Linked DNA regions of Homo sapiens: region 1 is linked to region 2. The links come from fine-mapping of genetic effects on gene expression. A gene starts in region 2. The other region holds a variant in brackets. All regions are shown on one strand. Distances are from middle to middle.

The links. PIP is the estimated chance that this variant, and not a neighbour inherited with it, causes the effect.
Region 1: its variant is fine-mapped to the expression of CADM4 in whole blood (TOPMed, PIP above 0.99).

The regions. Positions count from the first base shown.
Region 1 is chr19:43,698,359-43,703,725 of GRCh38, forward strand. It overlaps the pseudogene LOC105372412. Among named protein-coding and RNA genes, the nearest start is that of IRGC, 15 kb to the right of the region's middle. RefSeq lists enhancers at 2,086-2,586, 2,945-2,994, 3,005-3,054, 3,145-3,204. The variant G/A (reference allele first, on the strand shown) is at 2,788.
Region 2 is chr19:43,637,359-43,642,696 of GRCh38, forward strand. CADM4 (cell adhesion molecule 4) reads right to left here and starts at 2,492. Exons shown (of 9, transcript NM_145296.2): 1 at 2,369-2,492. The coding sequence starts at 2,432. RefSeq lists a silencer at 2,376-2,515.

The DNA of each region.
Region 1 (5,367 bases), 61 kb after region 2:
ATAACTTGGTATGCAACAAGTTCTTTAAAAAACAGGGGAGGGCCGGACGTGGTGGCTCACACCTGTAATCCCAGCACTTTGGGAGGCCAAGGCGGGCGGATCACGAGGTCAGGAGATCGAGACCATCCTGGCTAACATGGTGAAACCCCATCTCTACTAAAAATACAAAAAATTGGCCGGGCGTGGTGGCAGGTGCCTGTAGCCCCAGCTACTCAGGAGGCTGAGGAAGGAGAATGGCGTGAACCCGGGAGGCGGAGCTTGCAGTGAGCCGAGATGGCGCCACTGCACTCCAGCCTGGGCGACAAAGCGAGATCCCGTCTCAGAAAAAAAAAATAAATAAAATTAAAAAACTGAAAAAAATAAAAGATCTTTGGACTCAAACAGACCTGGGTTTGTGGTGTGGATTCACAATTTATCTGCAGTGTAGTCTTGGACAAGTTTCATAACCTCGTCTCAAAAAAAAAAAAAGAAAAAACAACAACAAAACGGGAATAACAACAGTCGCTAAGTCCTAAGACTGTTGTGAGAATTGAATAAGATAATCCACTAAACTATATCAGTGCTTTCTGAAAGAAATGTAATGTAAGACACGTGTGTAATTTAAAATTTTCTGGGCCAGGTGTGGTAGCTCACACCTGTAATCCCAGCTCTCTAGGAGGCCAGGATCGCTTGAGCCTGGAAGTTTGAGACCAGCCTGGGCAACAGAGGCAGACCCTATCTCTACAAAAAATTTTCAAAATAATTAGCTGGGCCTGGTGCTACGGCCTGCAGTCGCAGCTACTCAGGAGGCTGGGGTGGGAGGATCACCAGAGCCCAGGAGGTCGAGGCTGCAGTGAGCTGTGATTGTGCCACTGCACTCCAGCCTGGGTGACAGAGCGAGACTCTGTCTCATTTTTTTAAAAAAAGTTTTTAAAAAAGGAAACAAACATTGCACACGAGTGAAAACACACCTGTAACATACGTGTAAGGTAGAAAGAGTGACAACGAGAGAGAGACAGCCGTGACCAGCTCCCAGCTCAAAGAAAAGAACATTCCTGATGAGCTTTCACGAAGGACATGGACTCGAGGGGCTCGCGGGCCCTGTGCGTGTGCAAGGCGCGCGCGTGTGCGCTTGGGTGCGCGCGGGGGTGGCCTTCTGCCTGCGCGCGCCCCCACGTCCCCTCCTTGCACCCTGTCTCCGTCTCGGCAGGCGGCCGGAACGTGAACGTACGCGGCTGCGGCTCCCGAGACCTGTGCAGCGCCCTGGACTGGACCCACGGGCTCTCTGTGCTCCCAAGACACTGGCTGTCGAGCCACTGCAGCCCCCACCGCCGCGCCGTCCTAGAGTCCCACTGCCGCTCGGGCGCCGCGCCCGGCCTCCGCCTCTCCCTCCCGGTTCTGGTGGTAGTCCTGGCAACCGCGACGCTGTGCTAAGGAATCCCGCCTGGACCACCCCGCCGCCCGGGAGGCCCCCTCCACCTGCTTGTTCGGCACGTCGCTAGATGGTGCCCTGGCTCCCCTCTGCTGGGGCAATGCGGAGACCTGGAAGCCTCTGGTGAGAAACTCAGGAAGCAGGGATGAGCTTCCTCCCTCAGACTAGCGTTTCCCAAAGCCAGACCTTCTGCTCCAGACTCAGGGCTTACTCAAGGCTAAGTCCTCTTTCCTCACACCAGGGTCCCAAAGGCCATGCCTCCATCAGCCTAGGGTGTGTCTTCCCCGCTCAGACTAAGGCCACTCACCTGCTGCTGAGATCAGGCGTCTGCTCAACTAAGTTGGGGCGGGGCGCTATACCTCCCCCCTCAGATTAGCACCTTCCCCAAGGCCAAACCTCCTCCCTCAGAAGAGGGCTGTTCTTCTTCCTCAAGTTACTAAGCCTCCTTCTTCAAACGAGGGGATACCCAATATCCGGCTGCTCCCAGACACCAGGGATGTGTCTCTTCTCCCACACATTGACAAGCAACTTCTCTTTTGTTCTCCCTGTTTGGGGTCTAGCAAAATCCTGGGCAGCCAAGGCGGGGCTTGAGGATCCGATACACCCTCTTCCAAGGTTTTCAGAGCAGCCTCCTCCACCCCCACCATGGGCCAAGACGGGGCAGGGGGCATGGGTGGGGTGAGGAGCCCCTCTTCTGTGTGGGCCCAATCTCCCAGCTGTAACCAGATCTGAATGAATCACATCTCACAATGCCAAGTGGTTTGAGTTTCCTTTTTCTGAAGTTTTAGCCTCAAAGAGGGCCCTGATGTGGTCCTCTCTCCTCTGAGGCCAGGGGAGGTTAAGTTACTTCAACTGGTGAACCTGGAGGGGACAAACCGACAACAGTGTCTGGCCAGGGTGGGCATAAGACCAAATGCTGCATCTGGAACTGAACTCAGAGGATTGAGCGGAGAAGTGAAACTGGGTTGCTCACCACAGGCAGAATGCCAGGAACCATTTGCTTTCTGCTGAAAGTGGCTGAGCGCAGTGGTTCACGCCTGTAATCCCAGTGCCTGGGGGCTATGACAGTGGGAGGGAGGGCTACCTAAGAAATCACTCCAGGCCATGCACCAGACAGATTAGGCGGCGTGGCTCTAGGGGGCTTGAAAGAGACCGCCCCCGCCAGGCGCAGTGGCTCCCGCCTGTAATCCCAGCACTTTGGGAGGCCGAGGCCGGCAGATTACTTGAGGTCAGGAGTTTGAGACCAGCCTGGCCAATAGGACGAAACCCGTCTCTACTAAAAATACAAAAACTTAGCCGGGCATGGTGGCGAGTGCCTGTGTTCCCAGTCACTCAGGAAGCTGAGGCAGGAGAATCACTTGAACCTGGGAGGCGGA[G/A]GTTGCAGTGAGCTGAGATTGCGTCACTGCACTCCAGCCTGGGCAACAAAGCGAGACTCCGTCTCAAAAACAAAAACTGAAAGTAACAGAAAGCCCAACCGAAAGAATAGAAACAATTCATTTAACATTCATCTAACAAATCTTTATCAGTCACAAGCTATGTATTCTTTTGTAAATGAGACACTGGCGATACAGACAAAATTCTGTGCTCTTATGGAAGTGGTATTTTAGTGGAGGAGACACATAATAAATAAATATCACATATCGTACATCACATATCAGTGAGTACTAGGAAGGAAACAGTGCGGGGAAGGAGAATGGGGAACGCTGCCAAAGAGATATGATCTTATACATGGTGAGTAAGAGCCTCAGTAAGGTGACGTAAGTAAAGACCTAATTGAGGAAGTAAAGACCTACGTGGGGCAAGGGAGAAGGCCATGCAGTTGTCTGAGGTGGGGGAGGAGGACATTCCAGGCAGAGGGAACTGGAAAGGCAAAGGCTCCAAGGCAGATGCAGTAAGAAACAGTTAATGTGGGTCAGACGCAGTGGTTCATGCCTGTAATCACAGTGTGATTTTGGGAGGCTGAGGTAGGAGGATTGCTTGAGGCCAGGAGTTCAAGACCAGCCTGGGCAATATAGCAAGATCCCATCTCTACAAAACATTGAAAAGTTAGCCTAGCATGGTGGTGGACTACAGGTATAGCTGTAGTCCCAGCTGGTCAGGAGATCAAGACCATCCTGGCTAACATGGTGAAACCCCGTCTCTACTAAAAATACAAAAAAAAAAAAATATTAGCCAGGCGTGGTGGTGGGCACCTGTAGTCCCAGCTACTCGGGAGGCTGAGGCAGGAGAATGGCGTGAACCTGGGAGGTGGAGCTTGCAGTGAGCCAAGATCGCGCCACTGCACTCCAGCCTGGGCGACAAAGTGAGACTCCGTCTCAGGAAAAAAAAAAAAATTAAAATAAAAAAATTGAAAAAAAATAAAAGATCTTTAGACTCAAACAGACCTGGGTTTGTGGTGTGGATTCACAATTTATCTGCAGTGTAGTCTTGGACAAGTTTCATAACATCTCTGAGCCTTGTGTTCCCATATTGTAAGGTGTTATTGTAAGGTACATTAAGCACAAGGCTTGGCCCACCCTAAGCTTTCAACCAATTGAAATAGTCATGTCTTCAGGTTGTTAATCATGAGGACTGTGCTATTATTTATCCACATTGTATAGAGGAAGAAACTGAGGCTGAAGGAGGCTAAGAGACTGCTAGTATGAAGAACATTGGGACTGAACACACATCTGTCTGACTCTAGAAGATAAAATTTCCCCCCCTTAAACATTAAGAAAATGTCCAAATATACACAAAAGTAGAGAAAATAGTATAATATCTATGACAGACTGATACCCCAATCTATGATGGGACCAAAATGTGACTGAGCCCAGAGCCCATAGCAGGCGCCCAGGAGATGTTTGCAGCTGGAAGCAGTCATTAAATGACCCTTCAGTATCAATCTCTCAGTGTCCAAAATTATGCACATTTTGCCAAATTATCTCTCTCTTCCTTCCCCCTTCCCTGCCTCCTCCTTTCCTACACCTTCCCCTCTTCCTCCCTCCTCACCTCTCTCTTTTGCTTTTTTTTTTTTGAGATGGAGTCTCTTGCTCTGTTGCCCATGCTGGAGTGCGGTGGCGTGATCTCGGCTCCCTGCAACCTCCGCCACCCAGGTTCCAGCGATTCTCCTGCCTCAGCCTCCAGAGTAGCTGGGATTACAGGCACGCATTACCGTGCCCAGCTGATTTTTGTATTTTTAGTAGAGACGGGGTTTCACCTTGTTGGCTAGGCCTGTCTCGAATTCCTGACCTCAAGTGACCCGCCCGCCTTGGCCTCCCAAAGTGCTGGGATTACAACGTGAGCCACTGCTCCTGGCCTTTCCTTTGCTTTTACCCTCCCTCCTTTGCTCTTTCTCTCTCCCTCCTTCCTTTCTCCCTTCTTTCCTCCTCTCTCTCTTTCTCCCTCCTCTCCTTCATACTTCTTTCTTCCTTTCTCCCTTCTTGCCTTCCTATATTCCCTCCCTCTTCCCTTCTTTCCTTTTTGTGCTGAGACATTTAAAGCAAATCCCAGATATCATATTTCACCCATAAATACTTCCCTGTGCATCAGAGCCCATGCTTTCGACTCTTGTAGGACGGACACATCCTTTCTGGGAGGGAGGATGGAATAAAATAAAGCATACTGAGAGCTTAGCATAACCCACACCCATCCCTGCCTGTTTGCAGAAGGCCTAGAATATCCTAATCCTTCAGGGGAGATCTCCCTTCACCCATGGATCTGTGACATTCTTCTAAATCCTTCATAGAAAGCTCATATCAAAAGTGACTAGTTCACCTGTCTCTACAAAAAAATCAAAAATTAGCCTGGGTGTGGGGGCACACACCAGTGTTCCCAGCTACTCAGGAGGCTGAGGTGGGAGGATCACTTGAGCCTGGGAGGTTGAGGCTGCCGTGAGCTGCGATCGCGCCACTGCACTCCAGCCTGGGCGACAGAGTGAGACCCTGACTCAAAAAAAAAAAAAAGTGACTAGTTGAATA
Region 2 (5,338 bases):
GGAGAGCAGGAAGGGCCCTCCAAGACCACATGCTACAGCCTCCTACCCCATGCTTTACAGAACGGGAAAGTAAGGCCCAGAGAGGGACAAGGACTGATGCAAAATTATACTAAAGGGTCCTGGGTAAGGCTTGGACCCAAGTTCCTTAGCTCCCAGCTGAGAGCTCTTCCCATGACACCAAGCTCAGTTTCTACTGGTAAAAGCCACATACTATTTACTTTAGAGAAAGTTTACAGAGAGGGTTAGGGTGCCAGGAAGCAGTGACTTGGAAATCAAACGAGGGACAGGGCTGTAGACCTAACTCCCAGAAGCACCAGAGAAAGGCTTTTGCACGGGGCGGGTGGTCACCTTAAGCTATATTCTGATCCTGAGAATTCAAAGTCTGATGATTCTAAGCTGTCAGGATTCTAAATGTCATAGATGTCAAGATCCAGGAACTCCAAGACATCAAGATTTCACGATTTTTAAGACGTCAAGATGCTAGCATGCTAACACCATCACGGTTCTAGAACTTTAAAGGTGTCAAGATTCTAAAGCCTTCTGGATTCTAGAATCCTGTAGATGTCAGCATTCTAAAGTACCATCAGGTTCTTTATTTACTGGATTCATTAGTTCCAGGATTCTATGAGCCTGGTGTTTAGCCTAAAAAATAAAGATAAATTAAAATTGATGGAAATGTCACTGAGGTACCAAAGTTCTCATCTGGGAAATTGTGGCATGTCTGTTGTAAAGAAAGGAGGTAATGATGCAAGTTCTAAAGCAGTCACAGAAGACTAGAGAAGAAAGAAAGACAGTGAGAGGACAGCTTTGCCCCTCATCCTGGCCGAGGTGAGGATGGCTCTGCCTCAAACCCTGGAGTGGGGAACATGTAACCGCACTCAACTTGCCAGAAACCCCTTCACGGTCTGAGCTGGCGTTCCCTTTCATGTCACTGAGTTCAACATCCTCACTTTACAGAAAGAGAAACAGAAGCCTGGAGAGAGGAAGGTGTTTACCATTGGCTGCGATGGCAAATGGCAAGAGCCAAGATTTAAGCCCAGGCCGCCAGCCCCATGCCACCTGGTTATAACTCCTCTCACCAATCTCTGCCGAACACCCAGCCCTCCTGCTTCTGCCTAGCCACCTTCCAATCCTCTGTTCCTTCCAAAAGTGGCCTTATCCACCAGGGAGGGGTGACCCGTGGCAGGTTCAAGACTTACACAGTGTGAGAGTGTGTGTGGGTGACATTTCCTGACCTTGTCCCCATTCTCAGGGTCACCCAACCTCGGGGGTCTCCAGCTTCTCACAGTGTGTGATGAGGGTATGTGGATGGCTCCCTGGATGTCCTGGACAGGGGCTTCTCTGTGAGTCAAGCCTGGGTGTGTGAATGGGTGAGCAGGGTTTGGAGAGGCATTCGCTGAATCCACGTGTGTGCCTACACGCCAAGGTCCCCCATTCTCACTTCCCCACACACATGCACACAGATGTTCCCCTCCAGGGCTCTTTAGAATGCCCTGCCTGACTGAATTCCTCTTCAGGGGCACAGAGGGATAGAGAGAGGGAGGAAGGTAGGATGGGAATGGGAGATCCCGGGATGGAGGCTGTAAGCGTAGAGAGAGGAGGCACAGCAGAAAGACAGGGATGGAGATAGTGGGACAGAGAAGGGGGAAAGAGACAGGTGACAGAAAGGGTTAGAGAAACGAGTGACAGAAAGACAGGGGACAGAGACAAGGGGATGGGGCAGATAGGGGACAGAGAAAAAGGGACAGAAAAACAAGGGTGACAGCGAGACAGAGACAGGGACCAAGAATAGGGGCAGAGAGGGAGGGCAGAAATCCGGGGGAAAGAGAATAGACAGGATGATGGAGGGGACAGAGTGACCCAGGAAAAGGGGACAGAGACCAGGGGACAGAGGTAGGGGACAAAGACAGAATAGATGAGGAACACCGAGGCAAGAAGAGAGGGAGACAGACAGAAGGAGGGACAGGACTTCGAGACTGAGGGATAGAGGACAAGGGTAGGGGGACGAGGAGCCAGACGGGGGGGTTCAGAGACGGGCGGACAGAGGGACGCAGAGACTGGACAGAAGGACAGCGGGACCGGCCTGGGGAGGGCGGACTTGTGTGTGTAGGGGGGTCTCGGGCCCTTTGTCCCCGCCGGGATCCAGCCTGCGCGGGTGGGGGGGCTGCGGCACGGCGGCCGGGCCCCGCGCCCCCTCCCCCGCTCGTCGCTCCCGGCTCCCGGCCCGCGCTGCGCTTTGTCCCGGGGAGGGGGCCCGGCCCGGCCCCGCGCGCATTGTTCGGCCTCTGCGGCCCCGAGGCTGCCGGGCTGTCACCACAGCGCGCCCCCCGCCCCAGCCCGGCCGGCCGACCCCGGCCCCCGACCCTACCTGGCCCCGCCGCGGCCGCCCACAGCAGCAGCAGCGGCCACTGGAAGCGCCGGGCCCGGCCCATGGTGCCGCCGCCGCCGCCGCCGCCGCTCGCTCCCGGCCCGGCACCTGCACCGCCCGCGCCGCCCGCCCCGCCCCCCGCGCCCCGCCCCCTGCCCGCCCGGGGGCGGGGCGCCGAGGCCGGGGCGGGGCCGGGGAGGGGAGGGGGAGACGGAGGAGAGGCCCGGAGACAATCGGGGGGACGGCACGGTGGGGGAACGGTGCGGGGTGCGAAAGCTGGAGAGGAGAGGGGTGAGGAGGGCGGGAAGGGGTGCGCGGGAGGGCGACAGCGGCGTGGGAGCAGGTGGGGGATCTCGGTGAGCGCGGGAAATGGAGGGTGTTGGGTGAGGGTGCTGCGTGCGGGCCCAGGTGCTGCGCGCGAGGGTGCGGAGTTGCTGGCATGCAGGGTGCTTGCGCTGCGCGGAGGGGAGGGTGGCAGGGTGTTGCTGGAGGCTGTGCGAGGGTGGGGGCGCGGGCGTCGTGGGGTGCGGTGTGTGCGAAGGGAGAGCGTGGCCAGCGTGACGGGGGAGCGTAAGGGAGGGAGTGCGACGTGGGAAAGGTGAGTGTGAGAGGCGTGCTGCGGGCAGGTGGGTGTCTGGAGTCTAGCGAGAGGCTGTGAGCTGAGCCACCGGGACAGGGGAGGCTGCAGCTGGAGGTCCGGAGGGTCCGGAGGTCGAGGCAGGTCAAGGATCTCCCAGGGCAGGGCGAGGCTGGGGCTCAGGAGTGGGGTGGGGTCAGTTCCCTCCCTCCCTCTCTCCTGTCCTGACCTGAAAACCCCGTGTTTCCGCGTCATTCTCCGGGAGGGGCCCCCTGAAAGTGAACTAACTGGAAGGAAGCCTGAATCCTGGGTCCCAGGAGGGAGAGGCTCCTGTGAACACCTTCCAAGCCCTGGCGTCCCCTCTCCTCCCTGCTGTCTCCCTGCCCCAGCCTCTCTCCCTCTCTCTGCATGTATTTGCCTCTGCCCTTCCTCTCTCCCCATCTTTGAGGGTGACTCACCCCTCCAGACTTAGGTCCCTTCTCCCTCCTGGGAGTGGGTTTCCCTGAGCCCACTTCTGTGACACCCTGTAGACCTGATGCGGGATCATTACCTATGGGACCCAGAAAGAGTGAGAAACCATGGAAAGAAGGCCTCGACCTCTCTCATGCCCATTTGTCAGGCAAACTGAGGTCCAGAAGTGCCAATTATGAACATCTTTCCTTCCCCCCTCCCCCCTCCCCGCCCAGACGGAGTCTCGCTCTGTTGCCCAGGCTGGAGTGCAGTGGCACGATCTCGACTCACTGCAACCTCTGCCTCCCAGGTTCCAGTGATTCTCCTGCCTCAGCCTCCCGAGTAGCTGAGATTACAGGCGCCCGCCACCATGCCTAGCTAATTTTTATATTTTTAGTAGAGACGGAGTTTTGCCATGCTGGCCAGGCTGGTCTTGAACTCCTTACCTCAGGTGATCCATCTGTCTGGCCTCCCAAAGTGCTGGATTACAGGCGTGAGCCACCATGCCTGGCTGAAAATCCTTACTTTTTATTCCGACTAAAAAATTTTACATCCAGTCCCACAAGGGACTTCAGCTTCACACACCCTTTCTGTCCTCAGTACCCAGCTCCCAGTATCCTTTCTGACCTCAAAACCATAGCTACCATCAACCCTTGTGTCCCAGGACCATGGCTCCCAGTGTCTTCTCTGTCCTCAGGGTCCAAGCTCCCATCAACTCCTGTGTCCTCAGGACCACGGCTCCCAGCATCCTCTCTGTCCTTCAGGTCCAAGCTCCCATCAACCCCTGTGAAGCAGGACCATGGCTCCCAGCATCCTCTCTGTCCTCAGGGTCCAAGCTCCTATCAACTCCTGTGTCCCCAGGACGATGGCTCCAGCAATCCTCTCTGTCCTGAGAGCCCAAGCTTCTAACTGCCCCTGTGTCCCCAGATCCATAGCCCTGAGCAACTTCCTTCTTTTTCAGTCCTCAGCTTCCCAGCTTCTGTAGACTTGGGAAGAGATAGTCTCTAATCCTCTTTCCAGGGCTCACATTCTGTGACTTTTGCTAGATGGGAGAGGAATGTTTGATCTGCCTTTGGAATACTGGTCCAAGGGGTAACTAGTAGTTGCCTTTTCCCGCAGGAGCCAATAGGCCCGCTCACTCTGTGCTCTGACAGATGTCTCCTGCTCCAGCTGAAGGGGAACCTTGGGAGATGTTGGTTTGGTTCTCACCTGTCATCCTTAAGTCCCACCATTCCATGTGAAGACATCACAAGAGTAGTGGTCCTGACGGGCGCGTTGGCTCACACCTGTAATCCCAGCACTTTGGGAGGCCAAGGTGGGCCGATCACTTGAGGTCAGGAGTTTGAGACCAGCCTGACCAACCGGCCAACATGGTGAAACACCATCTTTACCAAAAAAAAAAAAAAAAATTAGCAAGGCGTGGTGGCACGTGCCTGTAATCCCAGCTGGTCGGAAGGCTGAGGCATGAGAATCCCCTGAACTTGGGAGGCAGAGGTTGCAGTGAGCTAAGATCATGCCACTGCACTCCAGCCTGGGTGACAGAATGAGACTCAGTCTAAATAATAATAATAATAATAATAATAATAATAATAATAATAATAAATAGAATAGTGGTCCTGTCCCCATCCTACTTCAGGGTACCCTGTCCATTAGGGATTTAGTGCAAGTGACAGCAAGTGCAACCCAACTGGTTTGAGAGAAAGAGAACTGGTTCACACATAACAAAAAGTCCTTCTATGGCTGGCTTTGGCGAGGTCTGTCAATCTCTGTCCTAAGGATGCATGGCTCCCCTCCTGTAGCAAGATGGCTGGCAGATACCCCTGGGGCCAGATTCATATTTGGGGTGATTAAGATTCTGCAAGAGAGAGACAACCTTTATTTCACACAGCTTTTCAATTGTTGCCTGTCCCTGGTGAGACTCGGAGACCTAGCTCTTGCCTGGT